2 separate regions of the Homo sapiens genome follow, and region 1 is linked to region 2. The links come from fine-mapping of genetic effects on gene expression. A gene starts in region 2. The other region holds a variant in brackets. All regions are shown on one strand. Distances are between the middles of the regions.

Evidence for each region. PIP is the estimated chance that this variant, and not a neighbour inherited with it, causes the effect.
Region 1: its variant is the best candidate, but not a certain one, in a credible set for the expression of BCKDHA in whole blood (INTERVAL, PIP 0.59).

The regions. Positions count from the first base shown.
Region 1 is chr19:41,416,165-41,418,960 of GRCh38, forward strand. All of the region lies in intron 4 of BCKDHA (branched chain keto acid dehydrogenase E1 subunit alpha), which reads left to right. Among named protein-coding and RNA genes, the nearest start is that of B3GNT8, 9.8 kb to the right of the region's middle. The variant T/C (reference allele first, on the strand shown) is at 1,730.
Region 2 is chr19:41,396,498-41,399,293 of GRCh38, forward strand. It overlaps BCKDHA (branched chain keto acid dehydrogenase E1 subunit alpha), which reads left to right and starts at 1,321. Exons shown (of 9, transcript NM_000709.4): 1 at 1,321-1,438. The coding sequence starts at 1,331. It overlaps EXOSC5 (exosome component 5), which reads right to left and starts at 862. Exons shown (of 6, transcript NM_020158.4): 1 at 684-862. The coding sequence starts at 831. RefSeq lists a silencer at 785-1,073 and enhancers at 832-1,504, 1,070-1,349, 1,505-2,176.

The DNA of each region.
Region 1 (2,796 bases), 20 kb after region 2:
AACTCCTGACCTCAAGTGATTCGTTTGCCTTGGCCTCCCAAAGTGCTGGGGATTACAGGCATGAGCCACCGCGCCGGGCCAGCCAAGGTGCTGTTATATGTGCTCTTTAGCCTCGGAGACTGTCATTTCCCCTCACTGCACTGCAGAGCGAGGGCACACCGGGTGAGGTTAGGGCAGGCCCCAGTGGTGTTGCCTCATTGAGGCACCTCCCCCATCCATGTGAGGCAGGAGAGGCAAGCATTACCATCAACTCTAAAAGCCAGGTAAGAACCTGAGTCAACAAAGGTGAGGTCATGGGCCCAGGCCACATTCTCCTAAGGAGTGGAGCCGAGTCTTTTTATGGCAGTCTGACCCAGAGACAGCTCTCGCTGTTTCCCACCCTTGGCTGTCTTCCCAGGGCTATATGTGGAGTATCAGTGGTGGCACTGGCAGGGAGTGGCGCCCGGTGAAAAGGAGTGTTAAGAGGAAGCACGTGCCAGGTGTGGTGGCTCACGCCTGTAATCCCAGCACTTCGGGAGGCTGAGGCGGGAGGATTGCTTGAGCCCAGGAGTTTGATACCAGCCTGGGCAACATGGCGAGACCCCCATCTCTAAAAAATTAAAAAATTAGCCAGGCGTGGTGGTGCACACCTGTAGTCCCAGCTACTCAGGAAGCTGAGTGGGAGGATTGCTTGAGCCCAGAGGTTCAAGACTGCAGTGAGCTATGATTCCACCACCGAACTCCAGTTTGGGTGACAGAGTAAGATCCTGTCTCTGAGACCAACAAGAAAAGAGGTAGCATGTGTCAAGCAAGAGCAGCAGTTCCCACTGGACCTGGAGTTTCCTGGTGCAAATCAGCCTGTGAGTCTGTATTTTCTTTTTTCTTCAAGACGGGGTCTTACTCTGTCACCCAGGTTGAAGTGCAGTGGCATGATCTCGGCTCACTGCAACCTCTGCCTCTTAGGATCAAGTGATCCTCCCACCTCAGCCCCCTGAATAGCTGGGACCACAGGTGCACGCCACCACACCTGGCTAATTTTTTTTTTGATTTTTGGTAGAGACGGGGTTTCGCTGTGTTGCCCAGGCTGGTCTCAAACTCCTGAGCTCAAGCAGTCCACCTGCCTCACCCTTCCAAAGTGCTGGGATTACAGGCACGAGCCACTGAGCCTGACAAGTTTGTACTTTTAGCACGTTCCCCTGCCCCTGCCCAGTCCTTCTCACATGGGTGGACCTAGTACCACATTCTGAGAAAGCCTGATTCCAAGGTCCTGTATCAGTCCCTTGGACCTTCTTTGACCCTCTACAAGACCTTTCTTTCCCTCCTTAACCAGAGCAACTCCTGTTTCTATCTGTTACATATGCAGCACAGCCACATCTTGTGTGGATTTGTATTATGTCCATTCAAAAGCATGTGTCAGAAAATACCAGTAAACCTGTATTAAAGTTGGATGTTGAAGTAGTGCTAACCACCCTCAACTCTAACTAAAATATCAACAAGTGGGCTGGGCGTGGTGGCTCACACCTGTAATTGCAGCACTTTGGGAGGCTGAGGTGGGTGGATCACCTGAGGTCGGGAGTTTGAGACCAGCCTGACCAACATGGAGAAACCCCGTCTCTCCTGAAAATGCAAAAATTAGCTGGATGTGGTGGCACATGCCTGTAATCCCAGCTACTCAGGAGGCTGAGGCAGGAGAATCGCTTGAACCCAGGAGGCAGAGGTTGCAGTGAGCCAAGATTGCGCCATTGCATTC[T/C]GGGCAACAAGAGCAAAACTCCGTCTCAAAAAAAAAAAAAGAAAGAAAATTAGGTAGATCTAGTGGTGCACACCTGGAATCCCAGCTATCTGGGAGGCTGAGGCATAAGAATTGCTTGAACCTGGAAGGTGGAGGTTGCAGTGAGCTCAGATTGCGCCACTGCACTCCAGCCTGGGTGGCCAAGCCAGACTCTGTCTCAAAAAAAAAAAAAAAAAAAAAAAAAGGTAACTGCTGTGTGTAATGTGATCTCCATTAAATTTGTATCTAAAGAGCGGGTTCTGCGGTAAAGAAAGGATTTGGAAAGCACTGTACTAGAGAGCTCCCTCTGAATAATGTTCCCGGTCTGAGTGCTTGCAGCATTGATCCACAGCGCTGCCCCTAAAGTGTTGGTGTGAAGGTTGTCCCACTCTTCAGGCGGGGCAAAGAGCTTGTCTGAGGGCAATCACAAACCCCCTTCTGTCTTCTAACTTCGGAGGAAGGGCCCCCTTAACCTGGAGCGGTTCCCTTTGATGGGGAGGTGGGTGTTCACCAGAGGTTTTGTTTGAAGAAAAGGTTTTACTGCCATACATGGGTTAGAGTACTTCTGTAGTCCAGAAGTTGTAAATTAGTGGTCTATGCTGTTATTTGGTTCATAATGATGATTTTTTTTTTTTTTCGAGACAGGGTCTTGCTTTGTAGCCCAGATTGGAGTGCAGTGGCACGATCTCAGCTGCCTGCAGCCTTGAACTTCTGGGCTGAAGCAATCCTCTGCCTCAGCCTCCCAAGTAGCTGGAACCACAGGCACACATCACCATGCCTGGCTAATGTTTTGATTTTTTTTTTTTTTTGTAGAAGCGAGGCCTCACCATGTTGCTCAGGCTGGTCTCCAACTCCTGGGCTCAAGCGATCCTCCAACGTCAGCCTCTCAAAGTGCTGGGATTACAGGCATGAACCACCATGCCTGGCCATAGTAATGATTTATGGTTAGAATATTTCTTAAAGGTAATTGAATTAGTTGAAAGCACTTAAATACCAGACAATATCTCACTAAGAGAAAGAAAGAAAAAGGCTAGATTTCTGCTTTCTTT
Region 2 (2,796 bases):
CCGCCCCCGGCCTCCCGTCTCAAACGTTAAAGAGAAATATTCTTGGAGTTAATCTACTTCTGAGAGTTATTTAGCTAGGAAAAGGGGATATTTGCTCTATAGGTAAGACTTGCCCTAATCTTTTTTTTTTTTTTTTTTTTGACTTGCCCTAATCTTAGGGATATTTACTTGTGTGGAGAGATGCAGTGAGGTAGCGGTGGGGATGTATTTCTCAACCCAGCGCAATGACATTATCTTCAATTTGAGGAGTATTTACGTGGGTGAAAGATCCGCCACAGTCCACAGTATGCAAATAGACAGGTTTGCTTCAGTCCGGGATGCAAGGACCTAGAGGGTGTGTGTGTGGGGGGTGGGGGTGGGAGGGTGGAGGAGGAATCGAGTTAAGGGGGATATTTACCCTGGCGAGGTGATTTTCCCTATTCTGAAATATCAATTCTTGGGCGGACAGTCTGCCCCTCCTCTCATTCTCAGAGATAGTTACAAAGATGGAACTATCTTCTCCTTTCTAGTCGTGAGGGAGAGATGTGTGTATCCCTGCGTATTTAGTAGTATTCAATCGGACAAGAAATCATGCATCAACGCAGGAGTGACATTTACCAGCTGGTATCGTGAGGAGGTGGGCACTCGGTTGCACAGTACACGGTAGTCCCTCTCCAAAAGAAAGACCTGGGTGAAGTTCTTACCTTGCAGGAAGGAAGCAGAGCCATCTGGCCGCGACAGCAGGTTCTGTTCGCAGGCAAAGTGCCGGAGGCTGCAGCCAGGACCCCGAGGGCTGGACCCTGTTCCATTTTCAGCACGGATTTTGGCGTCAGTATGCGTCTCCTCCTCCATCGCGCCGAGCCCACGTGCGGCTGCAGTTGTCACTTCCGCCTGGCAGCGCGCGCCGCAAACAGGCTGCGTAACCAGTGCGCACGCGCCGGGCTGGGCCATCCTCCTGGGCGTCCGCACGTGGCTTAGCGTTTACCAACAATCTGGCTCCGCCCAGTCCCACCTCCTAACTCTGGCAACGCCATTGGACATTTGGGAACAGAAGGCAGGCCTTGGCATTGATCCGCTTTACTCTGGGCCCCCGGGCCCTAAATCCCTGAGGCCCTGGTCAGGTTGCCCTCTTCTTTGCCTGTTACAGGAGTAACTACAATGAGGCGATTGGAGAAAATTTTGGGTAGATAGATTTTTTTTTCTCCAAATCTCTGTGCATTCTATCTACCACAGAACGGGAAGAAGATGGTTTTCTTGTCAGATGGTGCTGGAGTTTGCGTCAGGCACATAAAGAGGCAGCCCCGAATCTAGCCTACGTGAGTGCCGGACCGCTGAGTGGTTGTTAGCCAAGATGGCGGTAGCGATCGCTGCAGCGAGGGTCTGGCGGCTAAACCGTGGTTTGAGCCAGGCTGCCCTCCTGCTGCTGCGGCAGCCTGGGGCTCGGGGACTGGCTAGATCTGTGAGTACCTGGGCCCCAGGCGGTTTTCCCAAAGGGGATTAGGGATGTAAAGGCTATCTTCAGAGTGTGGGGTCCCTGAAGGATATGAAGGAAGGGCTGTCACAAAAGGGAAAAAGAGTGGGAGACTCCTTGGAGAAGACACCGAAGGGAAGATCTGCCACTTCCTTAGGAGACGAAAAGAACTTCCACTTCTTTAGGAGAGGAAAAAACCCGTTTGCAACTTCTTTGTGGGCCCTGAGGGAGACGACTTGAAGAGAGAGATGGGGGTTCCTTATTAGCTGCCACTGGTATTCAGGGGAGGCTCCTTGGAGGAACAGGGGAAGACCGCAAGACCTTCTCCCTCAGGGTTTGGAGAATGAAACTGACTTTGTAAGGGAGGGACTTTCTTCTGGGCAAAGATCCCTCTTCAAGAAGAAGAAAGAAGAGAACAGGTCCCTGTCACAGGCTGCATAGGGCCTTGTATTTCTTTGCTCCTTTGCCACAATTCTGATTTTAAAATGAATTGTGTAAAAAATTTGTTTGATTCCTGTGTCTCTTGATCGAATATCAAGACAGAGAATTCGTGTGTTCTGGACACTGTACAGAGGAGACGATTAATATTTGTTGAATTAATGAGGGGAAAAAAGGAGGGAGAGAGGTACAGACAGGGCACTTTGCCCACATTTCTTAGAAACACTTGAGAAGGCTTTGTTTCTTGTCAAAAGGGTCACAATCCCTTCAGGTGGATGCTGCTAAGGGCAAGATTACACTGCAAAAAACCTAGGTGGAAGCCTATCTTTAGACGGGGAGAGGCAATGGGTTGCAGAAGAGCTTTGAACTACAGTTGACAGATAGGAGAGTAGTGGTTACATGGGTGGATGCATGTCCTTGCTCTGCCGCTTTCCACTTGTGTAGCCTTGGCCAACGGACTGCACTTCTCTGGATCTATGGAGCTAATTTTCCTCTCTAAAATATTAACAGTGGCCACCTCATAGGGCTGTGAAAAATCAATATGTAAAATGCTAAGGACTGGACCTGGCACATCCTAAGGGCAATAGGAATGTTGATAGTGAGGGTGGAGGGAAGGGACAGAAACTAACCTTGGAGATGGGGAGAAGAAAGGGGTGACCTTGGGAAGGCCTGGATTGGTGAGGCCCTGGGGAAAAAAATCTGAAAAGATATTGTGAGGTTGAGTCTGATCCTCTGATCCCCAATCCATAAGGAGGGGAAGATGGAATCTGTAGAAAGAAGCTCTGGGTAGGGGAACAAACGGGAGGAGGGTGAAGAAGATGGGCCAGGAGTAGGACGTAGTAGGTATCTAGGAACGGAGTCACTTGAAACAGGTAAATACAGAAGGGCTGCAGGAGCAAGGTGTGGGT